3 separate regions of the Homo sapiens genome follow, and regions 2 and 3 are each reported to be linked to region 1. The links are microRNA targets in miRTarBase. Many come from high-throughput screens and were not tested one by one. Region 1 holds a microRNA gene; each other region holds the end of a gene's coding sequence.
What was found. Region 1 holds the annotated microRNA hsa-miR-4510 (UGAGGGAGUAGGAUGUAUGGUU, at 2,190-2,211, opposite strand). A microRNA usually pairs through its seed, bases 2 to 8, with sites in the 3' UTR of a target mRNA and lowers its output. Matches are read on the target gene's strand: a 7mer-m8 pairs with bases 2 to 8, a 7mer-A1 pairs with bases 2 to 7 and ends in A, and an 8mer does both.

Region 1 (7,196 bases):
AAGCAGTACGTATGAGAGTCAGTGAGGCTTGAAGTAGAGGCTTGCTTGGCAGAGGTGAGAGTGCATCTGAGGCTCGATGTCATGAATCTGTGGGCAGTCACAACTGCTAACTCCTGTCTAGTGCTGTGTTCCAGTTGTCTACTGCTGTCTAACAAACCACCTTAAAACTTCAGGCAATTAAGACAAAACTTATTTAATATTTCTTAAGGCCAGGGGGTTGATTGTGCCCAACTGGTTGGTTTTCACCTGAGGTCTCTCAAGCACTTACAGGCAGCTGTCATCTAGGCCTGCAGTCACCCAAAAGCTCAGCTGGGCTAGAAGTTCAATATGGTACGCTTACATGTCTGGTAGTTGATACTAGCTGTCAGTTTTTGAAAGCTTAGCTAGGCTGGAGCAGCTAATCACGGCTTTGTTGTATGGTTCCTGCTTCTCACTGCAGAGACTGGGTTCTTGGAAGAAATGTCCTATGAGCAAATATTCCAAAATGTAGGGATCAGGAGTTGCTGGGCTACTTAAGGGCCATATGCAGAACCTCAGTTGTATATTATTGAATAGAGCAATCACATGGCCTACTCAGATTCAAAGTGGTTGGAAAAATAAACTTCTAATGGTGTAAGGACAAAATCACAATGAAGAAGAGTGTGTAAAGTAGCAAATTATATTGTGACCATCTTTGGAAAATATGATCTATCACATCCTCCAAGAGCTCTCTGTACTCTGGAATCAAAGCAGATATAAAGAATACAAATAAGTATTTTGGGAATATTATTTAAGGCATGGTATAAAGTTATGTAAGCACTGAACTGTAAGATGTAGTGACTTTGACATGTAAAGAAATTGATTATTTAATTGTGAGGACAGGAAAGAGCTCTAGACCAAAATTCTCCTTCTGGCTGTATATTTTATTAGCTATGTAGCCTTGGGATAGTAACTGGGCCTTCTAACTGTGTCTATATAACAAGAGGTCTGGATTGGATAATCTGTAAGAGACATTATCATTCTTAATAACTAGGAAACCATGGGCTTGATGCCTATTTGCTTACTGCGGGTCAGGGAGAATAATATGGTGAATGAATTGCTTATAAATCAAAATAACACATTTTGAACAGGGTTTGCTTTTCTGGGAATCAATAATTGACATTAAATACTGTAGAGAAAGTTATTGATGACATTGATTGTTAGATTAGTCCTTTGGCTCTAGAGTCAAAGGAAGGCATTTCCTAATGATCTTCTATAATATACAAACTTTAAGTTTCTTTTCTATGTATTTCACTCTAATGTGAACTCAAATAATCTCTGACCTGCTAACAGATGTGGAAGCTGACAAATTTATTTGTAAGCAGAATAATTACCTCTTAATATTGATTTGTAAATCCATGTTGCCATTCATTGAATTTCTCCAAGTAGAAACAAGATATATCCAGGTCTACGACTGTGGATGGCTACATGTGGATCCCTACTTAATATTGAATGAGACAATGCATATCTGTCACAAGGTAATATATGATAGCTGTATCTAATTGCATATAAAAGAGGACCAAGCCAATTGACATCTCTCTGCTCTCAAGAAAACAATGTGAGCAGGACATAGATGTGTCTTGTGTTCCACACAGGGGGATTTTGGAGTTGTGGTAAATGAGATGGATTCTCTCCAGCGAACAAACCAAGAAAGGGTTGGAAAACAATATAAAATGGTCAGACATCTTCTGGATAGAGATTGTAGCGGAGTTTAGCATAGGATATGAGCCTTGCTAGGTTTTTCTATAATGACAAGTTTAAACAGGACCAATTTGCATTTTTATAAACAGCAATCACTTCCTAGAATTCTAGGGTTTCCCAAATCAAACTCCTGAATGTCAGTCTCTCCCACTTCAGTCATGGGTAACTGCCCTCTCTCTGAGCATTACCCCTCATTTATCTTAAGGAAAATGATAGACCAGTTTGTAGCATATCCTAAATTCTCTACTTAAATTGTGCTGCAATAGACACACAATGAGACACCATCAACTAAGCAACCACTGAATGACTATTACATACAAGACACTGTATTGGAGGCTATCAAAGGGTATATTCATTCATTCATTCTTCTTCTTTTTTTTTTTTTTTGCTTATTCCATGAACATTTCTGAGTGCCTACTTAATGACAGGCTCTGTCTGTTGTGAGAAAAGATTGTAGTTGTCTATCTAACAACCATACATCCTACTCCCTCACATACACACTATTCCACAGAGGCAACCTGGTATTCATCTTAAAGGCAACAACTCTGGGGCCAGATCACCTGAGTTACAACCCTGCTGTCACTACTGAATAACAGTGTGACCTTAATTAATTAATTAATTAATTAATTAATTAATTTATTTATTTAATACAAGGTTATCTTGCTGTCTCACCAAGGGTGAAGTGCTTTGGCATGTCCATAGCTCACTGCACCCTCAAACTCTTGGGTTCGAAGGATCCTCCAGGTTCAGCCTCTTGAGTAGCTAGAACTACAGGTCCACACAATCACACCTGGTTAATTTTTAATTTTTTTTGTAGATATGGGGTTTCACTATGTTGCCCAGGATGGACTCAAACTCCTGGCCTCAACCCATCTTCCCACCACTGCCTCCCAAAGTACTGGGATTATAGGCATGAGCCGCTGTGCCTGGCCCTTAAGTTACTTAATATCTTGATAAGTTATAGATAATAACCACCTCATATAATTTTTGTATTAAATGATTTAATACACATTTCTATATCTCTTTATGTATGTTTAATAACTCTTAGAATAGTGCCTCCCTTGTTGTAAGTGCTGTGTAAGAGTTGATTTTGTTCAAGTCTTGGTAGGCCATATCCTTCAAAGGAGACTAAGTCCCTTCTCAGCTGAAGGTGCATATCAACTCTGGTTGAAATGACTCATGTAAATTCCATTCTCTTGTCCATGATGTAATGTCATTCTGTCCAGTAAAATGTGAGGGGAAGTCTGGGGTGGATTTCTAGTACAGTTTTTCTGACTTTTATGAAAGAACATAAGGAAGAGATGGTCTATCTTCTCACCTCTGGAAGTTATTGTTGAGGATATAAGGTTGGAGTAACTTGGGGATGTGAGGGGCCACGTAAGGACAAACACGAACATTCCAAAGATGGCAGAACAAAATGTGGAAATGAAATGGATCCCTGAGCCATTCATTGAGCCCTTGAAGTCAGTGATCTTGGAACATACAACAGGACTTGTCAGACAATAAAGATAACAAAGCCCTCATTGTATGAGTCATTTTGCTTGTTTTCTGTTACTTGCTGGTGAGGTCATCAGGTGAACTGACACATCGTTCTTCCCTGATCATGAGGATTCATGGTATCATTAAAATTTCTTTTTTATTTAAACAAATATGAGAAACGAAACACGCTCAGACTTTCTAGTAAGGAAAAACAAAAGCCCACCTCAGAGGACGAATAAGCAAGCCATTTACCCTAATTCAGGTGTGTGGTATTTATTTTAATATGTATAAAAATTACAATAGATACAAGTGTAAAATGGTGTGAGATTGATTTCATCAGTCTTGTCACATAAGAAGAATAAACCTCTGGGTCACTCTCCGCTGCACGATGGCATAATAAATAAGGAAAACATGGTCATGACTCCTTCTCTATGAGAGATGCGATAGTTGATTAAGTGCAATCTATTAGTAGCTGCCAGTAACAAGAAAGGTTAATTTAAACCAGATAGTCTCAGGTTTCAACCTCTTCTATGGCTGCAAATCTGGATAGGTGTCCTTTGCTTACTGGTTCAAGCTACTGACAGGCAGACCTGAAATGGTTTTGGCTTCTGTCTGTGGCCCCAGAGCCAGGCAATCCAATAACAGTCTTTTCCCTTTAACTCTCAAACATAGGGATGATAGTGGCTTTTTGCTACTGTAATGTCTGGGTTGCCTTATTATCATTTGTTTGGCTTCTCAGCACCTCCCTCTATTAAAATTCCTCCTATCTGGAGTGACTATTGTTGTCCTGATTGATACGCTATCCTTGGTTTTATTCTGAACTATGGAAATCATAGACATTAGTTGTAACATCCAAGACTCAACCTTGACTTCTCCCAGTGATCCTACCTTTCCAATCATTGGTGATCATACCATCTTCAGTTGTATTTCAGAGGGGACTTACATGCCCCTGATTGCATGTATTCCCCAGACAAGGTCAACCTGGTTGAAACACAGCCTCAGTCTAGTATATCAATGTGTAATTAGTTCATTGTTTCATTTGACCTATGAATAACTATGACCAAGAGGGTATCAGAATTTATACAAAGCCATGTTATTATGGAATTCTAATATAGTTTGCTTTGCTATATATGATGGTGTTTTCATGAGGAGACTTTCATATATAAATAATAGAGAAAACTTGTAACATGGACTGTCCCACATAAGCAAAGCCACAACAAAAAACACATGAAAAGAACTATTGAAGGGCGAATGGTGGGTAATAAAGTAATGGAAATTATGCAATAAGACACTAGAGAGCCAGATAAATCTAAATCTCTAACAAGTCATGCAGGGTCTTAAGGTTGCAGCCCATGGCAGTGGAGAATTTTTGGGTGGACCTCACTCTGCTGTGCCTGCAGAGGGGTTGCCCTGGCTTTCTATCTTCCTTACTGAGAAGAATTTTCAGCAGTTCAATAGAAAACATTTACTGGGGAAAGGTGATATTTTACATAATGATTTTCCTGCCTTTGATTCCGCACATGTTGTTTTGTCTTTGAAATGTGCTAAAAGATGTATGTAAGCTGTCTGGCACTTTGTGCTTTTACAACCTGTGTTGTTTCAAATCCACAGCAAGGCAATTTTAAGTATTTGGGGTAGCACTTTCTTATGTCTGTTCTTTCTTTCTCCAGGCAGATGAGCTCATCAGACACTATTAGCCCTAGCTATAGAAGTTTAGAGGTAAACCACTGTCTGAACTGAACTAGTAAAACTGCTCTAAGCTGCAGTTTCCCTGAAAGTAAAGTATTAACTATCTATCATGTACTATGATGGATGAAGCCCATTAGATAAAGAAAAAGTCTGTTTTATTGGTTGAAAAATAATTAATCTTTACGAAGGTGATAAGCCTCATTTTACTCTTCATATTTGGAAGGATCTCGTGTCTTGAGCTTTGGCATGAGCATGCTGAGATGGCTGAGTGCAAGAACCACAGATGCTTAAGAGGATATGATGGAAACTTCTAGGTTTGTTACTAAACCAATTCTCTAACTTTTAAAGTGACACAATAAGAATAACGGGGTTAAGATGTGTTCTGAATTTTCTGTAGGAACATGTACACAAAATCAGATTCTGCTCTACAATGTAACAATTTTAGCAACTTCTTGAAATACCTCTATTTGTACCATTATGGTTTGGTACCCAAGTTAAAAGTCTCTGCATATCAGAAGGATGTCACTTATGGGAAAGAAGAAAGAAAAGTTTACTTTCTAGAGTATATTATTTTGGAAACACAATGTATTGTTTACGTGTAATAAAAATATAATGGTAACATTCAAACATGTTCATATCACCTCGTTGTATTTTTAAACTATAATTTTTGGCAATCATCAAGGAAGAAGAGACAATAGGGTGCATTTTAATTACAAAACAAACAAAACAATTCTCCCAGGCATTTCTGATGCAAAAGAGTTTGAGGATGTATGTCTTGGCAGGTCCAAAAATCAAAATGCAATTATTCTTTATATTTGGTTTTGTATTTTACCAGTGATAATGTAACAATTTTACCCACATATAGAACATAAGTAAATTATGCTACAGGTCTTGCAAAGCAGTACATTATTTTGCATCCACAGAGCTAGGTTCACACAACTTCTGCTTACTAGTTGTGTGACTTCTAATAAATATTTAATCTCTATGACTACCTTTTCATCTGAACAATGGAGATAATACCTATCTCGTAAGATTGTTTGAGTAGTCAAATGAGATAATGTAAGGAAAATGATAACTCACAGTTAATGCTTACTTACAATTCTCATCTAGATGTAATTTCCCTTTTTTTATCTTAATACAGAAATCTGAACACTATGGTTTAAACAATGTTCTCTGAAACATATAATTGCAAAAAGTAAAATCAAGGGTACCACCAGCCTAGAAATTAAGGATTTGGTAATTATTCCTTCTCCTGCCCTAATCATTCAGTTATTGCATTACACAAAACTTCCCAAATGTCCTACATGTCCATGATTACAACTTCCTTAGGACTTTTATTAACAAAGGTAGTGCACAGAACAATGCTAATTTTAATGTTCAACCAAGGCAGTAACCAAAAAACAGAATTCCTATTCCTTTGTTTCCTGGACATTATGTCCTGTAGTAACATAAAATGTCATCATATAGGTAATTGCCTATCCAGCTCTGCATAAGACTGGCTTTGAACCTGTGTAAGTGTATACAACTAAATTTGTCTAATCCTTCCTGATCTTGCTCTGATAGGCTGAAACCAGGTTGACCGTGCATGTGTGAATGGCTATACCGTATTGTGCCTTAGGGCACTGTGGTGGAGGTTGCTTGTACATAAAGAAAGGAATTACCTGAAATAGTGCAAATGGATTGTGAAAAATATTGGAATCACAAGATTTCAAACCCTTACTCATTTATTTACACAGCCAAAATCATAGATATTTGTTATTTCTAAAATAAGTAATGAGCAGACAGATGAAGAGAGGGGACTTCTAGAATATTTCTATACTTTTCTGAGCTTACTAATACAAATATCCTGGCCTTCTCATCTATAAATACCATCTTGCAGAAGTTCCATCTCTCTCCTGAGCTATAACTAAAAATTATAAAAGTTGTCATTGAGGCTTCCAACTTTGCCTGTCACCCTTTGGTTTCGTTATTCTTTTTGCTGTCTTAAGTTTCACGGGTAAAATAGAAAGATGCATCTCTAGAGCTTTTGATCTTAAAATTCCAAGGAAATACTAGTAAATTGCTTTATCATTTTGGGGGAATAGTAATACCACTGATGTAGTAACCATGAATAGAATAATTTATGACAAATATTGTCGATAATAAGAAATTTTAAGTTTACTCCTCCACAATATCTCATCCTGATGTGGTATCTTCATGATGACAATATTAATAATACATAAACATTTTTACTTTGTTTTGCTGATATATTTATATATAAATGTATGTATGTATGTAGTTATGCTTTACTAAGGAGAGGGGCAGGGGAT
Region 2 (7,196 bases), not on the chromosome of region 1:
CCCCACTGGGGGAAGAGACCGTGTGGCCTCCCCTCCTGTAGCCTCTGCCCTGTCTGCTGGGCAGTCAGGGCCAGTTGGGAAAAAGGCAGACCTGACCACGGAGCAGGAATTACAGACCACATCTTGTCTTTCTGTTGTTGGCAGTGTCAAAAGAATTTATTTCAAATCTGCTTAAGACTGTGGTAAAACTCAGGTTTTCCAAAAGGTAATACAGAAAGTTCAACTAACCCCCAAAGACCAGAAAACACAGTGTTTGCAATTCAAAAAATACAAACGCTTGTGGATACCAATACAAAAATTAGAAAAAAGTTGCTTTCCTTACCACTCCCCGCTACCCCCCGTGTTTTCAGTGGAACATCCACAGCAATAGGACCAAGAGCTGCCACCAAATACCAACAACGAGTGACCGAAAGTGGATGTGATGGGGGAAGGGGAGGGAGGAGAAATGGGGATAAAGAAAGGCAAGAAAATTGGACTTCTGTCGACGGTCAAAACAAGGACGCGAAGCTTTTTGTTTCTTGTTAAATCCCTTTGCCAACGTTAAACAAACACCTCTCATGCTTAATACAACAGCTTAGTGCCAACGCAGCAATCCTACATCATGCATTGAATGTTTTCTGCTTTGCCCGCTCCCCACTTCTTCTGGGTGCCGAGAAAGCCTGGGGCTCTGGGTGTCTGGTTTCCAGGGCTAGGAGGAGTTGGAGAGGCTTCCCCGGCTGGGTCTCACCCAGTAAGCACCTGACATGTTCCTGCTACTGCAGTTGCAAGCAGTCACCTTCCCGAACCTGAAGCCTGGTTTTGGCCTCTCCTCAGAGCTTTACCCGAGGGCCTGGCCTGGTCTGCAGTGCCCGCATCACCGGCCCACAGGTCCCTAGGCCTTTCCCAGGACTGTGCTCCTTGAGAGAAGAGCGATGGATCCGGACGAGACTTCCCTGGAGGTCTCAACTCCCAGCTCCTGACTGATGTCAACGTCAATCATTGAAAAAGCCAGGGCCTCCCCCAACCTGCATAGCTCGTGCTGGTGAAGCCCCAGCAGTCCCAGCGGTTATCAGTCATCTGAAAGTGACATGATGACCCACTAGCCCAACCAGCCTTCAAAACTTCGGCTCAGTTGCATCTCTTCGTGCTATCCACACTGGATTTCAAACCCATTCACACTGCAGAGACCCCTCGAAACAAAGGAGGCAAGCTGTGAGATGAGAGACCCCTTAGATACCAGAACTTAGGTAACAAAGAAGGCAGAGGCCTGGGTTAGTGTCCTTCCTTGGTTTAAAGGGGCTTCTGCTCACAGAGGCCTTGAGGCCTCGCAGTGAGACTGCTGACAGGTAGCCTGTTCATAGCACTCACACAGAGCGCCATTCAAACAGGCCTCGCCGGGAATGGAAACATATGGGGTGTTACTTTCTATGGTCATAGGAAACCTGTCTTAAAGGTCTATTTTACCCACTGGAGGCCAGGCAGCTCCTTGCCCTGGTCACAAGGAGGCTTGGATGGAAGACACTGGTCAGAGAACACTGGAACGCCCCCCACAGGTTTGAGTCACTGAATGGGAATCATTAGCTTAGATGCCAGAGATGAAAGACTGCACTTTTTTTCTTTAAAAATGTTATTGTATAATCCTCACAATACATCAGAGGAGGTAGGTTAGTATGACTAGTCTCATTTCAGGTGGGGATACTGAGGCACAGAAAGGATAAGAGATTGGCCCCCACTCATACCATGAATCACTATTAAAGCCAGGTTAAAAGAGGGAAGTAACCGAGGGCTGAACTTGGTGTCTGATCAATACATCCTGCCCGAAACCTGCCCTCATATTTTTACAGCCTAGATATTAGGTTAAAGCTGCAGGATCCTTTGATCTTCTGGGAGGAACTGCCAAAGAATGTGGTCAACAAACACAGCTACCGGCTCACTTGCAAAAGAAAAGTCCTGAAATTTTCCAGCATCACCATCTTGAATATTTGCCAATAAGATCTGTTAGATTTTTTTAAAAACCAATTGAGGGCCACAAACCCATTAAGAAGTTCCTGTTGCTTCCAGTAAAATGTGGCCAAGGAAAACAAAGGTAACGAGTTTTGCTTTCTAGGAAGTGGGGAGCGGGCAGGGGGCATCTTCAGTGAGTGAAAATTCAAGACCCAACAGGTTGGCATCTGTTGGAGGTGGCTCACCCCATTTTCCCCTACCTGCCCCCTGAAGACACATGGAAAATCCTGGGCTTGGGTATCAAGATAAAGGCTGGCAGCTTTGTCACATACAGGCTTTCTATGGAACAAAGCAGCCGGAGCGCCACAGTCCCTCTACAGATCCATGCATGACAAACCACTGGCATAACCTGGTGGTTCTCAACTTGTGGAGGCCCCCAGGAGATACCTAGCAATGTCGACAGATACTTTTGGTTGTCACACCTAACTTGGGGGTTGCTACTGGCAGATGATGGGTAGAGACCAGGGATGTTGCTAAACATCCTACGGCATACAGAACCTATCGCAAAATGTCAGTAGAGGTTGAGAAACCCTGGCGCCACCCCACGGGCTGTGCAGCAGTGTTCTTTAGCATTCACATGTTGACTCCCCCTAAGGATTGACCCTCCCTCACTACCTCAAAGCCAGCAGGTGGCCATGGGACCAGCAGCAGCCTCCTTGACACTGAACCACCTGCCCACCGGTGCCGAAACCCGCCTTCCCAGGGGGACCAAGCCTTTCGCTTGCAATGAGAATTAAGGCTTAAATGCAAATATCCCTGGAAGAAATACACAAAGATCCTGCATTCTGATCCTTTCCTGAGAGTGCTGTGGTGGGGCGGAGGGCAGGGGCACCAAGAGGGAGAGAAAGGGCGCAAAGAGGAGGGTGGGCCTGCCCCCAGCTCTCTTGGTGAGCTCCACAGAGCCTGCCCAGGCTCAATCCGGAAAGCACCACCCTCCTCAAACTTGGTGGGCCATAGGGCACCTAGGGCGCTGTTGCAACTACAAAGTACATATCAGGCTGAAGATGCAGCCTGGAAATATATACAGTTTTATAGTGTTTAGGTCAGTTACCTTGTGGGTCAGTATTACTGGTGTCCTCTTTAATTGGAATCATTATTTTCCCAAGGAGAACAGAGAGAGGAAAAGCAGGCTTTGGGGAAATACCTTCCCCTGCTTTGAATTAGGAGCTGGGATGCTATGTATGCAGTGAGGTGCTAGTGGATATTTTCGGAAGAGATTAATTTTAAAAGGAAAAGGCATACACTTTGACCAAGCTTGCTCACTAGCAAAGAACAACTGCAGAACCACATTACAGAGGCACTATTTACAATGCAATGGAACTCGACATTTTTAAACTACTTTGAATTCCTTTTTCACTGAAACTGCTTGATAGATTTACACCAAGTTACTCCTCAGCCAGCCCAACAAAAGCCTCATCTTGATATCATTTATATGTATGTACAAATGTGCCACCATGATGTAACGTGTTATGGAATTCGATGGTGGATGAGAATTCCATGACCTGTCTGTCATTTCTACTCTGAAACCCGGGACCTTCCTGGCCATGAGGAATTGATAAGTTCCTTCTTCACTTTTCTGATCCCTCAAAAACACAAGTGTGTGGCACGGACCTGTCGTTCTCTTTGAAGTCAGAACATTGAAGGTGTTTTGTGCTGAAGACAGGAGAGGTGTCTGTGAAGGAGAGCTGGATGCTGTCCCTGGCATCGGCCGTATTGCTTCTGGGCTCCTGGAGGAGTCAGAAAAGGGAGAATCCCAGCCCCCAAGCTCAGGGTGGCAGTGGGGAGGAGGGAGTCCTGGCTGCACCTCTCTGGACTTCAGGGAACTTTTTTCTGAAAGAGGCCACCGGATTTGAGGGCATTACCCTCCTGCACTTTCCACTTCTCTCCTGACCTGGATGCTGCTCCCTCAAAGGGGTTAGGTTCAGGGTAGCCCCAGGCAACTTGTGCTCCAATGATGGGCGATTCTTCTGCAGAGCTGGGGCCACCTGGTGACCTGGGCTGTGGTGATGGTGGAGGCTCCACAGCCTTCCCCAGGGCTCCCCTGTGAGAAGCTGCTGTCACCAGGCAGCCCTGCCTAGCCCACTCTCATTCTGGGGGCAGGGTGTAGGCCTGTTTTTTTTTCAGAAGAGAGCTAGACACTTCCCAAAGCTGATGGCTTCCTTGGCCCCAGGAAAGTGGTGGCTCCTCTTCATCCTCAATCTTTAGGGATCGTCTCCATGCTCCAAGCAAAGGCCACCCAGAGCTATGGCTAAGGATGAAGCTGCAGGGATATGGGAGACAGAGGCAGAGGTGCGGGCAAGGACACAGGGTCCCAGGTCTTGTGTGTCACCACCAAGAGCTCTGGACAGGGCTCTGGGATGGGAGGAGGAGACCCAGAAACCGCTTGGTGAGATGACAAGGAAGAGGCAAGACCTAGACTTCCATGAAGCAGATAGCTCCCAGGCTCCGCAGCAGAGACTGCAACACAGCACCGAGCAGCTCCTGGAGACGGGGCAGCTGGCCTTGCCGGCCACATCTGCAGAGACAGCGGACCAAGCAGCCTTGCAGACCAAGAGCATGAGCTTTGAGGTAGGATTGTCGGGCCTGCTGAGTGGAGGGGGGGTACCTGCATGGCTCCGGCAGGCAGTTACTCAGAAAGCAGGCGCGGTGTCTGAACAGGAAGGCAGAACCAAGGACGCACAGTTGGTGCTGGTGAATGGGCGAATTTTATAAAAATCCAGTCCAGCAAATTGACAAGTCACTTCTCAGCCTCAGAAATAAAATGCTTGACAAAATATATTCTTTTTAAAAGGAGAGAGAAATGTTACTACCAGGTGGAGCTGGAGGTGGCAGGTGACTGGGAAGATGAGAGGAGGGAGGAGAGGAAGGGTTCCCTGGGAACAAGAGCCTGGCAGGCTCAAAACCCCTGCCATGAGCTGTCTCTGAGAGGTGTGGATGAATCAATGTGGATCTCAAGGGAGAAGCCTGGTGTTTCCAGAGTCCTGCCCTGGCAGGTCAGACTCGGCACACCCAGTCTCACAGTGGGAAGCTGGGAGACAAGGTACCTGATACTGCCCTTCTATTTCCTGCCTTCCCCAGAGATCCCGCCCACTGCATCAGGGCAGAGCCGTCCCGGCCTGCCACAGGGGCCACTTGTGTTCATGATGCTTTCATAATGACAATAGGGTGGACTGACTAGAACAGGCTTTCCCAGGGTCTCCCATTTTAAATGCTTATGAGTCTGAGAGTGGTTCAGCTCAGAAGAGCAATCTGGATGCATTTTCAGTTAACTTCTTGGGCTGCCAGTTTCAGAAAGGAGCCATCACCAGGCGAAGACCTATGACATAGTTGTTAAAATTCTTGTGTTTTCACGTGGATTTAAGAACTAAGAACTGAGTGAATTAATTTTAGGAGACTGTCATGCCTGTGTGTGTGTGAGAGAGAGAGAGAAGGAGGGAGGGAAAGAGAGCGAAAGAGGGAAGAAAGAGGCAGGGATGGAGGAAAGTAAGAGAGAAGGAGGAAAGGAAGAAAGAGAGAGCAAAGGAGGGAAGGAAGGAGAGAGAGAAGAAGAGAGAAAGAGAAGGAGGGAGGGAGAAGAAATGAAGGATGGAGGAAGAGAGAGAGAGAACACAATTGGCTGATTAATAAAGGAAGCCATTTTAAAAGGTTCTAACACTTCAGTGAGAGAGGCAAAAGTCAAGCATGAATGATTAATGTCCCTTTCTATCAATCCTGCATTGGGTCTGCAAGTGGCAGGTGCTACTAAAGACTCTAGGACCAAGAAGCTAAAAGATAACTTTCTCAGCATGATGAGAATCTGCAATCTCGGGACTCTGAGGAGGCAAGGTCCCCACGGAGGGCCAACACCCGGGGCGTGGGATTACAGCGCAGCTCCTGACTGCCGCTCTCAGGAGGCCAGTCTCAAAGTCTACCTTCCTCTCCCTCCAAAAAAAGACAAGCTTTGAAAACAGATGGCAGGAAACATAGACATGAAGCCCGAATGCTGACTCCCTTGAGAAAGGTCCTTCTTGGGGAGTGTTCGTAATGTCTGGGTGGAATAAGGGTGACACACGTACCTTCCTTTGCCACTGACAGTGGCAGCTGTGAGCATGGCCCGTGGACCCATTCCCTGCGTCCCCAAGAAAATGTGTTTCTATGACACTCCACGCTGCCAGGTTGCACCCATGATTTGCATATCCTGCTTTTGTGGGTTATTTGAGCTTAGTGAGAATGGTGGGCGTTTTGCCTGTGAATGTCACTGTCACAGGCACAGTGCCGAGCTGGAGCGGGGCTAATTGCCTGACAGCTTTGGCCGCCCCAGGTTAGTCGGCACTTCCAATCCTGTGTGCAGGGTGACCTGGAAAAGAAGACAGGGCAAGTGAGGGTGGGAGAGGCTGCCGCAGGGACCCTGAGGGCTCTGACAGCACCGCAGACACCGGCAGGATCCCCTGCTGGCTCCAGGGCCATCCATGCAATAGCTCAGGGCTGCTGTGGACTGTTGAATATTACGTCCCCCAGTATTCCTAATTAAAGGCTATGTTGGTTTGCACCTCTTTCCTCATAATAAGAATCACCCAGCTGACTGGTTCCTCATTTTGCCAGAGCTGCCACAGCTGGGCAAAGTAGACGCCATCACAGGAGCACGGCTCTCACGCACTGGCTCCCGTGGTTACATATTTGTGTCTACTTTCTAGCCATGACCTTCTTTCCTTTCCTATTAAACCCATTCTATTAACTGTGAGGAATTATAGCCAACCTCTTATTTTTTGGATTAAAAAAAGCTTATCTGTTCATTGGTAGAGATGGTGTCTTGTTCATTCCCCAGGCTGGTCTCAAACTTCTGGGCTCAAGCGATTCTCCTGCCATGGCCTCCCAAAGTACTGGAGTTACAGGCGTGAGCCACCATGTCAGGCCAAGCCTAAGCCTATCTTTTTTTTTTTTTTTTTTTTTTTTGAGATGAAGTCTCGCTCTATCACCCAGGCTGGAGTGCAGTGGTGCGATCTCGGCTCACTGGAAGCTCCGCCTCCCGGGTTCATGCCATTCTCCTACCTCAGCCTCCTGAGTAGCTGGGACTACAGGCACCCGCTACCATGCCCAGCTATTTTTTTTTTGTATTTTTAGTAGAGACAGGGTTTCACCGTGTTAGCCAGGATGGTCTCGATCTCCTGACCTCGTGATCCGCCTGCCTTGGCCTCCCAAAGTGCTGGGATTACAGGCGTAAGCCACCGCGCCCG
Region 3 (7,196 bases), not on the chromosome of region 1:
GGTGGGGACACTCTGGCCCCTGATGGTTGGGGAGGAGTTGGTCTAAATCCACTCCTCCCAGCCTCACCTTCGCCCTCCACCACCCACCTGGGTCCCTCCAGAAAACTTTGCAAGGTCTGACTTTCTGCCTGGGCCTCAGCAGTCCTCTCAACTGTTCCAGCCCCCTCCTGGATCCACTATACAAATACAGGCTCACTGCCAAGAAGTGAGAACAATAAATCTTCCCTCATTCTTTTATTCATGTCCTCACCTCTGCAGGGACTGCTGAGGAAAAACAAACCCCACAAAATCCCTGTGGGCTCTGGCAGTCTGGCAGTCTCTTCTTTGCTCCTCTCTGATGATCTTTGGAAGGCAGAGGCCAGGAGAAGAAGCCCATCCAGCTCCCGTACGGGCGGCAGGCCCTTCTCTTCCTCCTCCTGAGTGGGCTCAACCACTCGAAGCCAGCACCTATAACATGCTGAGCCCGCACCGGGCTCTAGGAACCAGAAATCAGAGTGACCAGGGGAAACTGGGACATCGATATGCATGGCTTGCCGGAGTAACACTACACCTGACTCACCTTCCTAGCCTCCCGCAAATTGCCAGAGAAGTTCTGGGCCTAGGAGGGCCAGGCTGTTTGCGCAAAACATTAGGTAAGGTGAGGGAGGGCTGCCCTGGCTGCAGGCTCAGAAGCTACCACAGGGAAGTGGCAACCAGGGAAGCTGCAGGCCCTGAGGAAGGAGGGGCTCTCTCCTTAAGGGCCTCCAGGGCAAGGCAGCATCTGCTGGTGTCACAGCCTTTGCAAAACAGTTCAGACCTTGAGAATTCCCAGGACCTTCCTCCTCCAACTCTGTGCACCAGGGAGTGCTTCCTCAAACTGAGGAAGGATAGTAGGATTCGGGGATGCACTGAATTTTGCAGAACTCCATTTATACAGAAGAGATGCATTAGACTTAGGGTGAGCCACTGTCCTAGTTTGTCCAGGACTGAAAAGTTTCCCAGGACATAAGCTTTTCAGTGCTAAAACCAGGACAGTCCTGGGCCAACTTGGAAGATGGGTCACCCTAACAGAGGGGCTGTGGGAAAACCGATCCTCCCTCCCTGAGCCTGGCATGTGGCTGGGTCCAGAGCAGGGTTTGGATCCCAGATGTTTTCTAGCGGTTCTGCTAACCCACAACTTTCCTCACTATTCTAGGCATGAAGAAAGGCTGGAGGAAGGAGTGGGTCCTCATGGCCAGCTTAGGAGCTGTCAAGGAAAACAGAAAGAAGGAAAGCGTTCACGGTCTTCGTGGTAGAGAGGAAATTCCTTTGGCTGCCTTTGCGGAGCTGGGGCCCATGAGGCTTCAGACAGAGCCTGGGGTATCAGAAAGTGAGCTGGAGAGCACCTAAAAAACTGCCAGATTGAGGGGCTCAACCTTTCCTTGAATCCTTGCCCAGGGTACAAATGCTAGGTACAGCAACATGGCGAAAGCTGCCTTCCAAGTCTTTTGCCCAGTTTCTATTGCTCCCATGGACCCAGAGGGCTCCCAGGGACGGCAGCCTTGCAGTGCTGTGAAGCTATAGCAAGCTGACTTCTGTAGATCTGTCCCAGGGAACAGGCTGCTCCTAAAGGTTATCCAAACTGGAAGTGGTGGGCAGACATCTCAAGAGGCAAAAGAAGTTTGAGTTAAAGCTGGTCTAACAAGGCAGATCCCGTGGAGACCATCTTGCCCAGACTTCTAAGTTGACAGATGAGAGACCAAAATCCAGGGAGACTGAGTCACCTGCTCGAGCAGCACATTCCCACGTGGGATGTGATGGGACTCTGCATCTAGAACCATTGTTTCCTACTATCAGATGTCACAGCCAGAGGTTCCTTGGAAGGGAGAAAGCTCCGAGATGATGCCAGCCTTTTGCAAGTCTCTGCCTTCCTGGAGCCCACGTGCTGTTCTGGGAGAGGCTAAGTAGCAAGGACTCTGTGCCTCTGCAGCCACGATTTCTCTCTCCATTCTGTTTGATTCCCCAGCTTGGTTCCCTCCAGCACCACCTCCAGGTGAAAGCCTCCACAGATCCCCCTGGAGTGCTCCACCCTGGGGAGACTCCGAGCAGGCAGGCCTGCTTGGCCTCTCTCTTTCCCAGCCTTGAATGTATGAGAGAGACCAGCCTCAGCCCTCAGGAGTAGGAAGCTGCTGCCTACCTACTTCCTTACGAACCTGCCTAGAGGTGGAGGGATTTAACACACAGTTGAAAAAGTCATTAACAACACCTGGCTCTGATTAGTTTAGTAGGAAACAGAGTCCTGAGGGTGCGGCACACCCTGAGTGTTCACTGCAGCATGTCTGCTAGGGAGGTATAGATGGGGCTCAGGCCCAGGATGCTGGACTGGAAAGTGGGGGCAGGTGAAGGTAGGTTTTCCTTTGAGTAGCTGTGGAGCAGCAAGAGGGTCCTGAGAGCATGGCCAGGAGACGGCAGAGTAGAGAGGAGAGAAGAAGCATCAGAGGGACTTGGGAAAACATCTGACAGCTACCAAACCAGTTCTAAGCATTTATAGCATTTCCAGTTTTGTCCTATTGTGGGTGAGCCAAGCACCTCCAAAAAGAAAATATAAGAAAGAGCCTGAGAAATGTTCCTGAGGAATGGCAGGGCCGCCCCTTGTTCCCAGAAACCCTTTTAGGAAAAGCACGACTCCACAGAAGGTGTCAGGAGGGGAGAACCTGAATCTGATGCTAGAGGGATGCTGAACCCTCTAGCATCCTTGAGACCCCACAAGCACACAGAAGAAGAGGGAAGGGATCTGCACCCATCATGGCAGCCAGGAATGACCCTCTTGGAACATCTCAGGAGGCTCGAAAGCTCTGCCCAAGCAGGTGGGATGCTGAATCCTACCGGAGGAAGGCAGAGGTTTCCCACATACAGAATTACTCTGACTTCTGTAACAACAGGCTCTTGGAACTCCCTGAGCAATTACTACCTCCCCACTCAGCTCTCTGCCTGGCTGGCTACTAGTAATTTATTGCAAATAAGTCTCATTTCTCCAATAAGACAGTCGGCTTTTCTACCTCCGAATTCCCTACAGAGCTTAAGATAGCTGGGAACCCAGCTGGTCCTCATTAAGGCCCTTCTGAACCCGAATCTTCCCAACCTTCCTGGCCCCACCTCCACCCCTTCATTCCAGGAGCAGGCTCAGGGGAACGGAGCTGGCCAGGCCACTCGCTTCCCTTCCCTTTCCAAAGAGCTGGACTGGCAGATGCTAATAAGGAAAGTGAGAGATTCTGCATCTGCAGATCTGACTGGTAGCCTGGCCAAAGAGAACAAGAACTTCTGTATAGGTAAGCAAGGAATCTTTATTAGCAAATTCTCTAATTAGGGTACCCTTTATAGCTCTCCTATAGGAGATATTCATTTGTAAGTTTTAGTCAAGACCGTGAATCTCAGGGAGAACTGAAAATTTCTAAGAATATTGTTGAGAAGGGTCTTTGGCAGGAGCCTCTTAAATTCCTGGGTTTTGGTTCCTTCATCTATAAAAAAGTAGGTGTGGGAGGCCGGGTGTGGTGGCTCACGGCTGTAATCCCAGCACTTTGGGAGACCAAGGCAGGTGGATCGCTTGAGGCCAGGAATTCAAGACCAGCCTGGCCAACATGGCGAAACCCCATCTCTACTAAAAAAAAAAGTACAAAAAAAATTAGCCAGGCTTGGTGGTGCACACCTGTAGTCCCAGCCACTCAGGAGGCTGAGGCATGAGAATCGCTTGAACCTGGGAGGCAGAAATTGCAGTGAACCAAGATCATGCCACTGCACTCTAGCCTGGGTGACAGAGTAAGATTGTCTCAAAAAAAAAAAAAAAAAGGTAGGTGTGCCAAGGCATTACTATAAGCAGGTGACTTACACCAGGTGACCTGAGCAAGTACCTTCCAATTCTATTCTTCTGTGCAATACTGGACCATCTCATTCATTCATGTGCATGACAGTAATGTGGATTTAGAGTAAAAAGACCCACGGTTGACATCCTGGCTCTAGTGCTTACCAGCTGGGTGGTCTTGGGGGAGTCACTTAATCTCTCTGAATTAATTTTCTTATCTGGAAAATGAGGACAATAATAATAACATCTGCACCACATAGATTTGTGAGCTCCCACATATGGGCATGTTTTCTAAACTGTAAAACACTATTCAAATGTTACTGAGTATTGAAAGACCTTGATGGCTGTAATTTTTTTAAACTTCCCTTTAAATATGCAAATGATTATGATTGACATCAGAAACACAAAAAAGATCACAGCTGCTGGATTTGCTGTTAACTTATCCCTGCCCAGGGGGATCTACTACCCCATCAGTGCCTCCTGAGGCAGGGACTTAAGGGAGCTGGGCAGTAAATGTTGATCCCAGGGTAGAGGCTGAAGGTCTGACCTCCAGGGACACAGGGCGAGGCTATTTTGCCATTCAGCAGAACTTCTCCCACGTTGCTTCTACAGTTTGACAGCAGACTCCCAGCAACTACTTCCCTGGTTAATAAACTGGCAGTAAATTGAAACCTTCATTTTCTAGTGCACTTCATGTAAAGGGAGCAGACCCTCTAGAAATGAGTAATCATTTGTACAACTCCTCAAAAAATATGCTGATAAACTCACAAAGTTCTGTTATTGCTAAACACTAGTTGCATTTCCTTGGGTAAGCACCATAAAAAATTCACTGCAGTTTTTAGAAAGAAGATGCCAGTCACATTTTAACTGCTAGAGAGGAGAGAGTTGGGGAGAGGCTTACCCAAGGAAATGCTAACTGGGCATAAAACTCAAAAAGAGAGGCCAAGTCAAAGGCCCAGTTCCAAAACAAGAGCTAAGAAGGAGAGATGGGTCCAGGTGCGGTGGCTCACACCTGTAATACCAGCACTTTGGGAGGGCGAGGCAGATGGATCACCTGAGGTCAGGAGTTCGAGACCAGCCTGGCCAACGTGGTGAAATCCCGTCTGTACTAAAAATACAAAAAATTAACCAGGCATGGTGGCTGCAGTATGCCTGTAATCCCCGCTGCTCGGGAGGCTGAGGCAGGAGAATTGCCTGAACCCGGGAGGCAGAGGTTGCAGTGAGCCAAGATGGCACCACTGCACTCCGGCCTGAGTGACAGAGCAAGACTTCGTCTCAAAAAAAAAAAAAAAAAAAAAAAAAGGGGAGAGAGAAGGAGAGATGGGCCTTGCAGGGAAACCAGACCTTCCCAAGAGAGCATTGACTTAAGTGCTTCTCAGACTCAAGATCTCAGAGCACCTGGATGGCTAAGGCTTTTCATTGCAGATCATGACATGTAGATTTTTTTTTTTTTTTTTTTGAGACAGAGTCTCACTCTGTCACCCAGGCTGGAGTGCGGCTCGGCTCACTGCCATCTCTGCCTCCCAGGTTCACGCCATTCTCCTGCCTCAGCCTCCCGAGTAGCTGGGACTACAAGGCGCCCGCCACCATGCCTGGCTAATTTTTTGTATTTTTAGTACAGATGGGGTTTCACTGTGTTAGCCAGGATGGTCTCGATCTCCTGACCTCGTGATCTGCCGGCCTCGGCCTCCCAAAGTGCTGGGATTACAGGGGTGAGCCACCGCGCCCAGCCAACATATAGATTTAACAAATTTAAAGAATTAAACAAACCCCATTTCTACAAAAGATACAAAAGAAGAATTAGCCGTGTGTGGTGGCATGCACCTGTAGTCCCAGCTACCAGAGAGGTTGAGGTGGCAGGCACTGAGCCCACAACATCGAGGCTGCAGTGAGCAGAGATGGTGCCACTGCACTCCAGCCTGGGCAAAACAAATAAGCACAAACCAAAATTCTCAAGTAGATGAACAGGAGTCAGCACCAAAGCTTCAATATGTATAGAAGATAGAAGGAAAATTGTAATTCTACCCTGTAATATGTGTTTGTGTCTGTCTGTCTGTCTGTCTGTCTTTGTGCGAGTGAGAGAGAGGAGACAGAGAAAACTGGACCAAGACCATATATCACTTTAATAACAGAACTCCTTGGACCAGTTCACAGAACTGTCATTTAAAACCAATGTCCTAGACCAACTCCAACCTTCTTGTTTTCCAGTGTACCCACCCCACACAGGGCCAGCCACAGCCAGGTGAGAACAGGAAGGGGAGTGGAGAGGGAGAGTGGAGAGGGTCCTGACTCCCATAGGCTTCATCTGGGCTGGCCCAGCCTTGACCCCATCTGCCCAGGAGCCTCTCAGCCATGGAGTCCTCTAGGGAGGCACTTAGCCCACCTAGAGCACAGGAAAAAGGTGGGACGGGGGGCACCTCCCAGCACCCTCCCAAAAGACTCACACAGGGGCAGGGAGGGGAGAGGGCAGAAGGGCAGGCTTCCTGCTGCTTCTAGCAGCCTCTTCATCTCCAGCTCCTACCTCTCTCCTCCCCCTCATCCCTCAGCAACCACAGCATGCCCAACCAAGTCCCAGCCTCTCTTCTGTCATTGAGTCTCTAGTGAGAAAGAGGACTCTGAAATCAGGGCCCAAGAGGAGAGACCTGTTGGCTGGGTGGCTGGCCAGTGGGTAGTGACTGTTCCTCACACACAGTAGTAGGAGGTCCATGCGTTCTGTGTCGGAGGCTACTGCCTCTCCTCCATTAGTGGAGCTGCTGGAGGCCCCAGGAAGCATGAGGCAGTGGTGTGCAGTGAGACTGGAGGAAACAGCAGGACTCAGAGGAGGGAGTCCTAGACCAAAAGGGAAAGGAACTGATTCACAGCATGGCTCTACACTAGCCAAGCGACTTTTATTTTAGTAAATCACTTAACCATGCAGGGCCTTGATTTTCACTTCTATCAAATGAGGCTAAAAATATCTGCTGCTCAAGATTTTTTGTAAGATTTCTTTGAGAAGATCAATACATACATTCCCTGTAAACTCCGAATGTATTATCTACCAACCCCCACCCCTGCCCAACCTTAGAGGAAGATGCTTTTCATGATCATGCCCTAAATTTGTAAAATACTTTAGGTAAATAATGTTTTTGTTTTGTTTTGTTTTTGAGACAGAGTCCTGCTCTGTCGCCCAGCCTGGAGTGCAGTGGCACGATCTCAGCTCACTGGAACCTCCGCCTCCCAGGTTTAAGCGATTCTCCTGCCTCAACCTCCCAAGTAGCTGGGTGCGTGCCACCATGCCCAGCTAACTTTTGTATTTTTAGTATAGACAGGGTTTCACCATGTTGGTCAGGCTGGTCTCGAACTCCTGACCTCGTGATCCGCCCACCTCGGCCGCCCAAAG

Region 2: the mRNA of TRIM67 is a reported target of hsa-miR-4510. Seed matches in the 3' UTR shown: 7mer-m8 at 5,550-5,556, 7mer-m8 at 5,546-5,552, 7mer-m8 at 5,415-5,421, 7mer-m8 at 4,835-4,841, 7mer-m8 at 3,769-3,775, 7mer-m8 at 2,819-2,825 and 1 more.
Region 3: the mRNA of TMPRSS5 is a reported target of hsa-miR-4510. Seed matches in the 3' UTR shown: 7mer-m8 at 6,083-6,089.

The regions. Positions count from the first base shown.
Region 1 is chr15:35,921,878-35,929,073 of GRCh38, reverse strand. It overlaps MIR4510 (microRNA 4510), which reads right to left and starts at 2,218; the gene lies at 2,151-2,218. The region is part of intron 1 of LOC105370766 (a long non-coding RNA gene); the gene reads right to left.
Region 2 is chr1:231,214,498-231,221,693 of GRCh38, reverse strand. It overlaps TRIM67 (tripartite motif containing 67), which reads right to left. Exons shown (of 10, transcript NM_001004342.5): 10 at 129-6,319. The coding sequence ends at 6,254. Among named protein-coding and RNA genes, the nearest start is that of FSAF1, 23 kb to the left of the region's middle. RefSeq lists enhancers at 367-867, 4,018-4,517, 6,209-6,318, 6,232-6,733 and a silencer at 5,049-5,108.
Region 3 is chr11:113,681,629-113,688,824 of GRCh38, forward strand. TMPRSS5 (transmembrane serine protease 5) reads right to left here. Exons shown (of 13, transcript NM_030770.4): 13 at 5,922-6,646. The coding sequence ends at 6,632. It overlaps LOC107984390 (a long non-coding RNA gene), which reads right to left and starts at 4,882. Exons shown (of 3, transcript XR_001748391.2): 1 at 1-4,882.